Regions from separate parts of the Homo sapiens genome. Here region 2 is linked to region 1. The links come from fine-mapping of genetic effects on gene expression. A gene starts in region 1. The other region holds a variant in brackets. All regions are shown on one strand. Distances are between the middles of the regions.

Region 1 (2,916 bases):
CCCAGCCTGCATATTCTTTTTGAGGTTCATCCACATTGTAGCTGGTATCCATAGTTTGTTCTGAATAATATTCCATTGTATGGACATAGCATATTTTGTCTACTCATTCACATGTTAATGGACATTTAGGTTGTCTCCAATTTTTCCAACTGGGCTATTATGAGTGAGACAGATAAGAAAATTCCTGTGCAAGTTTTTGTGTGTATACATGCTTTCATTTCTCTTAGGCAGATCCCTAAGAGTGAAATTATTGGGTCACATGGTAAATTTATGTTTAACATTTTAAAAAATTGCCAAACTGTTTTCCAAAGTGGCTACACCATTTTACATTTCTACCACCAATATATGAGGGTTCTCGTTTCTCCACATTCTCTCCAACACTTATCTTTTTAAAAAAGGTTTTTGTTGTTGTTGTTGTTTGCAGTTTTTACAGTTTTATTTAAACAGAAAACATACACATGAGCTGTCTACTCATTTTCTTTGCTGCGCAGCCTGGGATTGGGGTTGGTGACTCTGACGGCCAGCTGGGCAGCTCTTTTCCACGATGGCTTTGCGGTTCTTGGAGGAAACATTGTGAGCGATCTCAGCACAGTAAGATTTGTTGCACAACAGCAGCACTTCCAGCTCCTTGACGTGTGGACCAGGAATTTCCGGAAGCCACTGGGCAGCATGTGCTTTGTTTTCTTGTTGCTCCCATAATCAATGTTGGGCATCAAGATCTAACCCTTGAACCTTCCACGAACCCTGTTGTCAATACCTCTGGGTTTCCGCCGGTTACGCTTAATTTTGACATATCGGTCAGACTGGTGCCGGATAAACTTCTTGGTTCTCTTTTTGACGATCTTGGGCTTCCCAAGGGTTCTGAGGACGGTTTATAAAAGTGCACTGAGGGGAGGCTGAGACAGGAGAATTGCTTGAACCCGGGAGGCGGAGGTTGCAGTGAGCCGAGATCGTGCCCATCCTAGGCGACAGAGAGAGACTCTATGTCAAAAATAAATAAATAAATAAATAAATAAATAAATAAATAAATAAATAAAATGCACTGAGGAGACAGATTTTTGAGAGTTAAAAGGACCCTCTCAAAAACCGACCGCGGTCCTCCACTGGGTAGGGGGCGCTCCAAGACAGGGACTCTTCTAGCCTGTTGCCTCTCCATGTTAGCGATATCCTCGTTGCTAGGAGACTAGACGCGTCTTACAGTGGGAGAGCTCAGCCTCACTGATAGCCGGGGATCTCTCCTGTTCGAGGGCTGAGATCTCCGGTCCCACAACCGCCCACAACCAGGGGCACTTCTGGAAGTCCCCTTTCTAGGGACATTTTTCTTCTAAGCTCTGTAACGCGGGCCGAGGCAGACCGAGGCTTCTTTCCCGGATCCAATCCCCTGCCCCCATGCCTAAGAAAGAAAAAATGGCCAAGACGCCCCTGTCCGATGAGAAGCAGCTGCTTCTGTTTCAGCAGAAGTTGCTGGCAGAGGAGGAGATGGCCAAAAAGAAGGAGAGGCTCCTCAGCCAGTTCTTGAAGGTGATGGCCTTTTGCATTATGTCCTGCTCAACCCCATCCACCCCCTGCCCTGGCCCTGTCACTGAGGAAACCTCATTTTCATCCTGACCTCCCCTCCTCCGGAAATCCTGAGACCCAGATATACTTAGATTTCAGGCAACATTGTTTGGGAGGCGGGGGTGTTCTCTGCGAAGCACGGAGGGGGTGCGTGGTATACGGCTTGGCAATCTTTACTGAATCCCAGAACTGGGACCGTAGGTCCTGTCAGCTGTTCCAGCTGTCTGGAATGCTGATATTCTCCCTGGAGATAGGTCATTACAAACAACATCCTACTCTGATGCTCCCACCCTGAAGGAAATTCACCCTTGCCCTCCCTAAATGCCATCAGGCCGTTCCCATCGAAAAGGGGTAAGGTGTCAGCTGATAAATTAAGAGTGATCTTGTTTGTTGTACTGAAAGGCCCTGACTTCCTGGAGGTATATTTATTCCTTCACACAGGACAAGCTGGCCAAGGAGGAACACAACAGTGCTCTGAACCTTAATAAGATTAACACACAGTGGAGAACTGTCCTTCGGGAAGTCAAGACCAGAGAACTTCATAAGGACATTGAGATCCTCAGCCAAACATTTGAACGAGTGGTGGACTGTAAGGACAATGTCATCAAGGTAGGCACTCTTTCCAAGGAAACCTTGAGTATGGCTTCCTGACCTCTTAATAGAATGAGCCTAGTGAATCCATCTTAAAGCCCTCACAAGACACAGGCTGTGAGAAAGCCAGGCTATTGGTAATAATGGTTTTCACAGAAATAAAAAATAGAATATTGGGCTTTCATCCCTCTCTCCCTTAGAGGACCCACTCTTCTTGTCATCTATTGCCCAAAACCAGTACTATCCAATAGTAGAGTCATAAGGCACAGTAGACATCACCCAGTGACTTGAAATGAGTCCCACACCTTCATTTCAATGTCAGAAGGCTCAGTTCCAGAGGGGAACTGACTTGCCCAAGGTCACATAGCTAGTCAGTGAGAGAACCAGGACTCCAGCATGTGTTTATTGATTCCCACTGCAGTGCTCCATTCAACTAAATTGTTTGGCCTCTTGATTCAACTTCAGTGGCCCTGGATAAGGTTGAGAAGATCTCCATGGGTAAGAGCAGTTCTGGATTTCTAAGCAATTCAATCAGCCATCCTTATGCTCTTGGGAGGTTCTTGAGTTCTTGATTCCATCCTATCTTTTCTTCTAAGGGATTTTCTGTACCCCTTCTTTTGTCTTACTTTTAATATTCTGCCTCCATTTACTGCCTTCTCCTTAGTCTTTTCCATTATTTATTTATTTATTTATTTGACATGGAGTCTTGCTCTGTTGCCAGGCTGGAGTGCAGTGGCACAATCTCGGCTCAGTGCAACCTCTGCCTCC
Region 2 (2,864 bases), 27 kb after region 1:
TTGTTGCAGTTATTTGTGTATGCCCCATTCCTCCCTTCCTATCTCCCCCAAAGAGCCAGCTAACTGATGGCAAGGTCAAGGTTGCAATCATGTCTGGAGCTAAGTACTAGCTACACGATAGCCTCCAAATAATAGATTCTAGACAGTATGTTTTACTTTGAAGAAATTATACTATGAAATACTGAGAAGCCATTAAAAGGAGATCTAATTACACTAATATAGAAAATCTCTAAGACAAATGTATATATACCCTAAGTAAAAAAGCAAGTAGCAGAATAACAGATGTGATATGAGCCCATTTATATTTTAACCCCTCCACAAACATGTGTCAGCACATACATTTAAAAAAGGAACTAGAAGGATGCACATCAAATAGCTGAGGATGGTTACGTTTGGGCATGGGAGAGAGAAGAGTAAGGGCAATGTCCCACATGTTGCTCTGTATATTTTTGTATTGTTTGGATCTTTTACAATAGAAATTACTTTGGTTATAATTTTTTTCCTGCTCAGATGTTACTTCTCAGGTTATAAAAATAATTTTTAATATTAAATATTACACGAATAAACAAGATATATAGCAATACAAGGGAATGAGTGGGAGGTGTTAAATGAGTTGTGCTAACAGAGCTAAAGGAGCCAACGTGGGGAAAAACTATAAAAGTCCTTGTAGTTGCAGAGGGCACAGGCAGCTTTGTGGAGGAGGTGAAACTTGAGCTAGATCTTGGAGTGGGATTTTTAAACAAGTGAGAAAGGAGGTGAAGGCAGAGGGCCAGATGTTTGGGAAAAATGAATGGACTGATTTGGCTAAAGTAAGGGATTTGGCCAGAGACTAGAGAGAGGTGGCTGGAGAGGGAATTAAGGGCTAGTTGTAGGCCGGGTGCAGTGGCTCACGCCTGTAATCCCAGCACTTTGGGAGGCCGAGGCGGGCGGATCACGAGGTCAGGATATCGAGACCCATCCTGGCTAACACGGTGAAACCCCGTCTCTACTAAAATTACAAAAAATTAGCCAGGCGTGGTGGCGGGTACCTGTAGTCCCAGCTACTCGGGAGGCTGAGGCAGGAGAATGGCGTGAACCCAGGAGGCGGAGCTTGCAGTGAGCCGAGATCGCGCCACTGCACTCCAGCCTGGGCGACAGAGCGAGACTCCAGCTTAAAAAAAAAAAAAAAAAAAAAAAAAAAAAAGGCTAGTTGTGAAGAACCTTGAATGTCAGACTAAGGCAGTGGGAACACATTGCAAGTTTCTAAGCAAAAGGATGACACAGCATACTGCACTGATGTATCAGCAGACTCGAACAGTGTGGTGAAGGTGGAAGGCTATTGTCTTATCCAGGTCTGAGGCTCTGTTCAGGAACCTGAAGGGGAAGAGGAGTGGAGTAGGAGAAGGTGGTAGTAGAAATGGAAAGGGCAAAACTATTAAACACAATATCCACCCACAGGCAGCACAAGCCCATCTGCACCCTGGAGGGACCAGAGAAGGAGCTTTTTCCTTGGATCAAGTTAGAAGAAATCCAAACAACAGAGAAAGGTGAGATGATTCTTGGAAAGATAGGAGAGTTGGCCCACCCCTGGCTGGAGATACAACTTAATCACAGAACCATTGCTAGAAAAGCCTCCACACTCAAAGGTGTCTCTGTCAGTGTGTAGGAGAAACCCTACCACAGTACCTGGGCTTCCAAGACTCATGGGGCACCCACCATGCCCAGCTTGATTAAAGACAATGGTGTTTATTAATTCATCCATTTGTTCATCAAGGTTGCATGACTATTATGTGCCAAAGAATAAGCAGAACACTGCTCTTTAAATGTTCTTAAGTGTTTA[T/C]TTATAACAGGTTGTTAATAAAGTAAAAGCCTGAGTTGGCATATATAAATTTGGGTTTAAAATTTGATTTTGGTTGAGACAGGGTCTTGCTGTGTCACCAGTGCGGTGGCGCAAACACAGCTCACTGCAGCCTCAATCTCTCAGGCTCAAGCAATCCTCCTGCCTCAGCCTCCTGAGTAGCTGGGACCACAGGCACGTGCCACCATGCCCAACTAATTAAAAACATTTTTTTTTGGCCGGGCACAATGGCTCATGCCTGTAAATCCAGCACTTTGGGAGGCTGGGGTGGGAGGACTGCTTGAGCCCAGGAGTTTGAAACCAGCTTGGGCAACATAGTGAAATCCCATCTCTATTTTTTTTAAATAAAAGTAAAAATATATATATATATATAATATAAACATATAATTGTATATATATCATATAAACATATATTTATATATATATATATATATATATATATATATATATTTTTTTTTTTTTTTTTTTTTTTTTTTTTCTTATAGAGATGGGGCCTCACCATGTTGCCCAGGTTGATCTCAAACTCCTGGGCTCAAGCTATCCTCCCACCTAAGCCTCCCAAAGTGTTGAGGTTATAGAATTGAGCCACCATGCCTGGCCTGGTGTTGTATTTTCAAGGGTATACATACCCCCAGCTGACTAGATGTTTTCTTTCAGGTATGTTTATGCATATATTCATCCAAGAATGAAGCACTTACTTACTTCCTCCACTCTTCCCCTATGGCTGTTCTAATCAAAGAGGTATCATCCCATAAATGCAAGATTTGGCAAAGACAAGAACAGATTCCCCATCTCCTATCTATAACCTAAGGCCAAGAGTGCCCTTTATTACTATATTCAGAACTCAGAAAGAATTCCTGTGGGTTAGAGCCCCAAGCTAAGCCCTCCAAGCCTTAAAAGTCCTTCTATTCAATTCTGTGCTGGGAGGACCCTGAACGATATATGGGATGGAGGGGTGAAGGTGGAAGTGGGGGGAAGCAGGTGCCAGGCGGACAAGCCCATTCTCAAACCTGCTGCCTCGCCTGGA

The links. PIP is the estimated chance that this variant, and not a neighbour inherited with it, causes the effect.
Region 2: its variant is the best candidate, but not a certain one, in a credible set for the expression of DRC2 in whole blood (INTERVAL, PIP 0.55).

Annotation. Positions count from the first base shown.
Region 1 is chr12:48,902,948-48,905,863 of GRCh38, forward strand. It overlaps DRC2 (dynein regulatory complex subunit 2), which reads left to right and starts at 1,186. Exons shown (of 8, transcript NM_033124.5): 1 at 1,186-1,521; 2 at 1,999-2,166. The coding sequence starts at 1,390. It also overlaps the pseudogene RPL32P27. RefSeq lists a silencer at 1,143-1,192.
Region 2 is chr12:48,929,976-48,932,839 of GRCh38, forward strand. It overlaps a transcript of FKBP11 not described here. Among named protein-coding and RNA genes, the nearest start is that of FKBP11, 5.9 kb to the left of the region's middle. The variant T/C (reference allele first, on the strand shown) is at 1,820.